Linked DNA regions of Homo sapiens. The protein of the gene in region 2 interacts with the protein of the main gene of each other region in a biochemical or structural test. Each region holds a gene or a part of one and is shown on either strand. Other genes may lie near its edges.

Region 1 (3,744 bases), 840 kb from region 2:
GGATTCTGTCTTTGTTATTTCTCGTAGTCTGGACTAGCCCCCCTACACCTGTTTATGGAGAAACCAGGAGATGCCATTGCTGTGTGTCCCATGGTGGCGACTGGGCTCATTGCTGCCTTGTGGTGTATTTTAGCTTGTTCCTCTATCTGGTGAATTTTCCTGCGGAAAATTCTGCAGAAAAATCTGCGGAACCATTTTTTGCTGGAACGCTTGACAGCTCTTGCATACACTTGAAAACACGTCACATTCTAGGAAACGTGGTGATTGGTGCTCCTGTGAGCTGCTGGCTGGCATCTGTCAGTGGTGGAGAGCTCTGGGGGGTGAGGGGGCACCTGGTTGAGCCTTGTCTCCTTTGGCCTCCCAGCCTCTAGGCCAGGAGGATGGCACCGAGTGTGCCTGCAGTGGCCTCTTGCTGAATGGACACTTGGGTGGGTGGCTTGTGCATTTTTGTCAGGGGCTGCTCAGCACTCACACCAGTCCTTGGGAAGGCCTGGGTTTGGGGGCACCTCTGGGGAAGGTTCCTGGAGCTTCCTTTGCTCTGTGAGAAACCTAAGGAGCCTCAGAGCTGCAGATGAGGAAACTGAGGCTCACATGGTGCCACCTCTTGCCCGAGAGGGTCAGAGCAGGAGGAGAGCCCAGGTCTGGGGATAGATCTTGTGTCTCCAGAGGTGCCTTGTCTCACCATCTCTGCTGGGCTGGGAAGAGGTTGAGGGAGCAGAGACCCTGGCCCTGAGCTGCAGAATTCTCGAGTGTCAGAGGCACCCCGAGCTCCTCCTTTGGAAGACAGGAGCTGGGGCATGGCCACCACCCCAGCAGGTGTGCCAGGTGGGCAGGACACTCAGCCGGGGGCGTCCCCTTCGTTTCCCCAGAGGATGCGGCTGTGAAGGGGCGGCTGGTGGAATGTCTGGAGACTGTGCTCAACAAGGCCCAGGAGCCCCCCAAATCCAAGAAGGTGCAGCATTCCAACGCCAAGAACGCCATCCTCTTCGAGACCATCAGCCTCATCATCCACTATGACAGGTGCCCGCCTGGGCCTATCAGGGCCTGATGCCTGGGGCCAGGAAAGAGGGGCATGGAGGCCCGGACTCCTGAGTCCTAGGCAGAGGGCAGGGAATCTTGACTTTTAGGTAGGGTAGGAGGAGGATGGGGCTGTGAAGTGTCACCTGTGAGGTTGGTGCTGGGGCCCTTCCTGGGGGCAGAATTGCTAGGTATCTTTCTCTGGGCTCAAAGGCCCAGTTGTCTGGGTCACTGGAGGTGCAGTACTGCGATGCAAGGCCGGCAAGGTTAAGACCTGGATCCTTGGGGGCTGTGAGATGGGTCAGCTGGGGCCCGAGTCCTCCACCTTCTCCTGTCAGTTTCTCTCACCATCCCTCTCTTGTGGCCCCTGCTGGCAGTGAGCCCAACCTCCTGGTTCGGGCCTGCAACCAGCTGGGCCAGTTCCTGCAGCACCGGGAGACCAACCTGCGCTACCTGGCCCTGGAGAGCATGTGCACGCTGGCCAGCTCCGAGTTCTCCCATGAAGCCGTCAAGACGCACATTGACACCGTCATCAATGCCCTCAAGGTGTGAGCCCTTGGAGCCCACCCCGGGCCTGCCACCCCCCTCAGAAAGACCAGAGGCTCAGAGGCCCTTGGGTGGCCAACCCTGTGCCAACAGGGAGTCTAAAACACACCTGGGCTCTGCTCTCCGCCCTCAGACGGAGCGGGACGTCAGCGTGCGGCAGCGGGCGGCTGACCTCCTCTACGCCATGTGTGACCGGAGCAATGCCAAGCAGATCGTGTCGGAGATGCTGCGGTACCTGGAGACGGCAGACTACGCCATCCGCGAGGAGATCGTGAGTGCTGTGGGGTGCGGGCTGGACTCTTGGGTCTGAGGCAGGAGGTGGCTGGGGGCCTGGATTCCTAAGTCTAAGGGAGGAGGGGCTGGGGCCTGGACTCCTGGGTCTCCAGATGGGGGCAGTGGTGAGCCCAGATCCAGGTGAGTGAAAGCCCGACATGGCCTGCGGCACACTCTCTCTCACACGCCCCGGCGGCAGGTCCTGAAGGTGGCCATCCTGGCCGAGAAGTACGCCGTGGACTACAGCTGGTACGTGGACACCATCCTCAACCTCATCCGCATTGCGGGCGACTACGTGAGTGAGGAGGTGTGGTACCGTGTGCTACAGATCGTCACCAACCGTGATGACGTCCAGGGCTATGCCGCCAAGACCGTCTTTGAGGTCAGCATCCCTGACCCTGACCCTATGACCCCACGACAGGACCTAGAGGCAGAGCAAGGATGGCCGGGGCCGTGGCGCCTGCCAGCCCGCAGCCACCCTCCTTCTCCTGCACTGCCGTGACCTCAAAATGGGGCCTCTGCCTCTCTGGGCCAACCCAGGGGACCCAGGGCTATGGTCTCATGGGCCTGATGTGAGGAGTCCCCAGGGCATGGGCATGGGGCACCCAGTGTGCAGTCCTGGCCCCCGGATCTCGGTAGTTTCCCTCTGCCCCAGGAAAGGGGCCCCACACAGTCCTGTTTTTTGTTTGTTTGTTTGTTTGTTTCTGGAGACGGAGTCTCACTCTGTTGCCCAGGCTGGAGTGGGGAGTGAGTGCCGTGGTGCGATCTCGGCTCACTGCAACCTCGGCCTCCCAGCGTCAAGCCATTCTCCTGCCTCAGCCTCCCCAGTAGCTGGTACTACAGGCACGCGCCACCACACCCAGCTAATTTGTTTGTATTTTTAGTAGAGACGGGGTTTCACCATGTTACCCAGGCTGGTTTGAAACTCCTGAGCTCAGGCAATCTGCCCGCCTCGGCCTCCCAAAGTACCAGGATTACAGGCATGAGCCACTGCTTCCGGCCCACAGCCCTGTTTTACTTCCTGTGTGAGCTTGGGCCCGTCACTCAACCTTTCTGTGACTCAGTTTCCCACCTATAACCCCACCTGCAGCAGAGCTTTCAGTGTTCCACCAGTCAGTAGGTGGCTGCACCCACCGATCCCGGAGAGGGCGCTCATTGTTGTCCTCTCCACGCCCTTCCCCACCCCACTCAGGCGCTCCAGGCCCCTGCCTGTCACGAGAACATGGTGAAGGTTGGCGGCTACATCCTTGGGGAGTTTGGGAACCTGATTGCTGGGGACCCCCGCTCCAGGTGAGGGAGCCTCAGCCTGCAGGGGAGAACACACATGCTTCTGAGGGGTCCAGGGCTTGGGGGATCCCCAGGGGTCTCAGGGCAGGCAGTGATGGGCTCCCATCCTCTCGGCCTCCACCCCAATCCACCTAGCAGGGTAAGAAAGGAGCTTAGTCCCAGGATCGTGGACAGAGTGTGACTGCGGCCCCTGTCTGGTGCCTGGGGAGGGCCACTCCCCTCCAGCAGCTTGGGGTCCTGGGACGGGTCCATCCTAGGGAGGGGCACCTCTCGAGGGGGTTTCTGGGAGAGGGCAGTGGAACCTGGCCCCGCTGACACCCACTCCTGCACACAGCCCCCCAGTGCAGTTCTCCCTGCTCCACTCCAAGTTCCATCTGTGCAGCGTGGCCACGCGGGCGCTGCTGCTGTCCACCTACATCAAGTTCATCAACCTCTTCCCCGAGACCAAGGCCACCATCCAGGGCGTCCTGCGGGCCGGCTCCCAGCTGCGCAATGCTGACGTGGAGCTGCAGCAGCGAGCCGTGGAGTACCTCACCCTCAGCTCAGTGGCCAGCACCGACGTCCTGGTCAGAGCCCTGTCCCCCCACCCCACCCCTCTTGCACACCCCCTTCCCGCCCTCC
Region 2 (3,744 bases):
GCCCAGGATGCGTGCTTAAAGTTGTATTTGCAGAAGCAGCAAGCAATTTTTACTTTTATTTACTTACTTATTTTGACATTTTTATTTCTTGCTCTAAATATTTATTTATTTATTCATATTTATGTTTATTTTTGAGACAGGGTCTCACTCTGTCGCCCAGGCTGGAGCCCAGTGGCACAATCTTGGCTCACTGACTGCAACCTCCACCTTCTGGGTTCAAGTGATCCTTCTGCCTCAGCCCCCCAAGTAGCTAGGACTACAGGCATGCATCACCACACCCAGCTAATTTTTGTATTTTTTGTAGAGACAGGGTTTTGCCATGTTGCCCAGGCTGGTCTTGAACTCCTGAGCTCAAGTGATCCGCCCACTTGGCCTCCCAAAGTGCTAGGATTACAGGCATGAGCCACCGCACCTGGCTATTTATTCTTGAGATGGGGGTCTTGCTTTGTTGCCCAGGCTGGATGGAATGCAGTGGTGCAATCATAGCTCACTGCAGCCTCAAAATCCTGGGCTAGGCCGGGCGCGGTGGCTCACGTCTGTAATCCCAGCACTTTGGGAGGCCGAGGCGGGTGGATCACAAGGTCAGGAGATCGAGACCACGGTGAAACCCCGTCTTTACTAAAAATACAAAAAAAATTAGCCGGGCACGGTGGCAGGCGCCTGTAGTCCCAGCTACTCAGGAGGCTGAGGCAGGAGAATGGAGTGAACCCGGGAGGCGGAGCTTTCAGTGAGCCCAGATCGCGCCACTACACTCCAGCCTGGGCGACAGAGCAAGACTCTGTCTCACAAAAAAAAAAAAAAAAAAAAAAAAAAATTCCTGGGCTCCAGCAATCCTCCCACCTCAGCCTCCTGCGTAGGTGGGACTACAGGTGCACGCCACCACACCCACTAGTTTGGTTTTGTTTTGGTTTTTTGGTTTTTTTGTTTTGTAGAGATGGAGTCTCCTACGTTGTCCAGGATAGTCTCAAACTCCTGGCTTCAAGGGATCCTCCCACTTCAGCCTCCCAAAGTGTTGGGATTTACAGGTGTCAGCCCAGCCTTTGATTTTTACCTAGAGGTTGTATTTATTTGGATGTCACTGATTGAGAGCACTGAGGGGGCCTCCGAGCCACCTCTCCAGGCTATGTAGATCTAGATCAAGCTTGTCCAACCCATGGCCTGAGGCCCGCATGCAGCACAGGACAGCTTTGAATGCGGCACAACACAAATTTGTAAACTTTCTTAAAACATTATGAGATTTTTTTGTGATTTTTTTTTTCTCATCAGCTATTGTTACTGTTAGTGTATTTTATGTGTAGCCCAAGACAACAATGCAGTCCAGGGAAGCCAAAAGATTGGACACCCCTGATCTAGACCTTACCCAAGGGATTTAACCTCCATGGGCCTCAGTTGTCTCCTCTGTGAAATGGGAATGTCATAATTGCACCCAAGTGAAAATTAAATGAGAAAACGCTTTCAAAGCACTTAGCACTTCACCACTTATAGGAAATGACAATTGCCATTAACTGCTATTAATATACCAGAAACTGTTACTCACTACTTTTGAGAAATATTCATTAAGTACCTAGTTGGTACCAATGTTTTGTCTACACTGACCGGTTTTTCAAACTGTGGATCCCTTAGGAAATAAGTTTATGGTGTGTATTTTGCTGATGAGGAAACGGGGCCTCAGAGCAAGAGGCGCACACAGGCAGGAGTTGGCCCAGGTGGGATTCAAACCCAGGTCCCTGCTAGTACCTCTATCCTGGCTGTGGCACTGTACCTTTGAGTCTCAGCTTCCGCTCCTACCACCGGCCTTCAGAGCGGCTCAGGTTGGAGGGCCTGAAGTCCTGGGTTCCTGGGAAGAGGGGCCTGGGGTCCCCGGACTTCTACCTCTGTGAGATAGCGGGGCGGAGAACTGGGCCCCCGGACCCTGGAGAAGCAGCACGTCGTGATCCTAGATCTCTGGGTCCCCAGTGTGGAAACCCACTGGGTCTCTGCTGCCTTAGTCCCGGGCAATCTCCCTGCTTCCTTGCTGAGGCCAAGTGATTTCGGCTTTCTTGCCGCGGGTTCGGAGTGGGGGAAGGAGGGGGTGCAGGGGGAGGAGCCGCGGACCTGCGACAGTGGCGAGGGGAGGAGCCGAGCCGGCACCGCGGCTGGCGCGCGGGGCTGCGGCGGCGGCGGCGGCGGCAGCGGCGGCAGCGGCGGCTCCGGGTGAGTCCGCTCCTCCCCCTCCTCCTGCCACAGCCCCAGCCCCAGTCAAATCCCTGGGGTCGGCCCCGGCGCATGGGGGCGGGGTAGATGCAGAGGCGCGTGGATCTCGGGCCGGGGAGTGGGAGCGCTGCAGCGCTCTCTGGCCACCCCGGGGGAGGGGCACGTGGCCCTGGAAGGGGGTCCCGAAACACCTGGGTGTATCCCACCCCTCGCCCACCGATCCCCAGCGCGGGGGGATCGTTTCCTCATTCCGTGGCCCCTAAGGACTTAGGGCTCCGTGGCTTTTCGAAGTCCCGGACATCGTTCCCCTCCCCTGAAGCGTCTTGGGACCCCAGCATCTTAACCCCCCAAAACCTTAAAAAAAAAAAAAAAATCCCATCCTCTCTGCAGCCCGGAGGCATTAAGGACTTCAACTCCCAGCAGATCCTGCAGCGCCGGGTCTATGAAGCCGCAGCAGCGCGAGCGCGAGACCTGCCGGGAATTGTAGTCTCTAAGCCCTCAACGGGAGCTGGGGGCCCGGAGGTGGGAGGGGGTGGCCGGGCTCCCAGTGGGTCGCCTGGGGTCGGGCAGCTGGCTCGAGTAGGGCAAGATGTGACTGTTAAGCTGAGCTTTTTCTCCCGGCCTCAGCCCCTAGATCAGACATTCTCTCTCATTACCCGGCGCGTGGGAACGGGTCCACAGCCCCTTGTCCGCCCTAGAACCCCCATGGGCTGCCGCCCGCCGCCGCCTCGGCTGCCACCCAGGACACGGCAGAGATAAGCGCAGGTGAGTGTGGCCATGCCTGTCTTGGAGTCCTGGCCTTCTGCAGCACCCCCACGACACCTGTCCATCTGTGAGCCCTGGTCTGTCTGTTCCTAATTCCCCTGCATCCCCTTCAACCCATCTTGATGCCTGGCTCCGAGCCATGTGTCACTAATTCCCCCTCTCCCCACATCCACCTCTCCTTCCTAGCCTCCTCTCATTTATGTGCTCATTGAACCTTCCCTTATGAACCCATGTCTGTCTGCCCAGCCCTCCTGTCTCCTTTTGTCTATCTGCGATCTCTAGCCATCATCTGCTGTCCTTGCCCACCCATCCATCCTCCCGTTCGACCGTTTCTCTTTCAAAGATATTTCTGCCCACACTCCTGCCTGCCCCTCTTCACCGTCTCTCGTCCTCTCGTCTCTCAAGCCCCCGTGAATTAATTACATCTCGGTTCATTCCTTGTCACTGTCCATCCCAAGTCTCAATCCTTGACTTTCCTTCTGCCTGCCTGTTCACCTCTCCATCTCTTCGGAGCCTCAGTCTGCCCTTCACATTATCTCTGTCTCCCCTCCCTGTATCTCTCCCTCCCTCAACTTGGTCCCCATCTCTGCATCTCCACCTCTCCACCCCCAGCTCCCACCATACCTATCCACCTCCAATCTCTCTACCCACATCCATCCTTCTCTCCTGGCCCTCCCCGCGTCTACCCCAGTCTGGCCTCCTTGGTCCCTGGACCCTCCAACTGCTTTCCTACCCTAAGCCCCTGTCATCCTGCTCCTACTGTCTAAAATGCTTTTCTTTAAAATG

Evidence for each region. Proteins that work in one complex are often made in the same cells at the same time.
Region 1: the proteins of SYT3 (region 2) and AP2A1 form a complex in vitro, tested with the Homo sapiens proteins (one study listed by BioGRID).

What each region holds. Positions count from the first base shown.
Region 1 is NC_000019.10:49,797,933-49,801,676, forward strand, and holds part of AP2A1 (AP-2 complex subunit alpha-1), read left to right. Parts: intron 1-869; coding exon 870-1,020; intron 1,021-1,394; coding exon 1,395-1,563; intron 1,564-1,672; exon of another isoform or gene 1,673-1,696; coding exon 1,697-1,834; exon of another isoform or gene 1,835-2,035; coding exon 2,036-2,218; intron 2,219-3,028; coding exon 3,029-3,126; intron 3,127-3,457; coding exon 3,458-3,689; intron 3,690-3,744.
Region 2 is NC_000019.10:50,638,239-50,641,982, reverse strand, and holds the start of SYT3 (synaptotagmin-3), read left to right. Parts: upstream 1-2,101; 5' UTR 2,102-2,193; intron 2,194-2,583; exon of another isoform or gene 2,584-2,820; 5' UTR 2,821-2,958; intron 2,959-3,744. UniProt on the Homo sapiens protein: Ca(2+) sensor involved in Ca(2+)-dependent exocytosis of secretory vesicles through Ca(2+) and phospholipid binding to the C2 domain.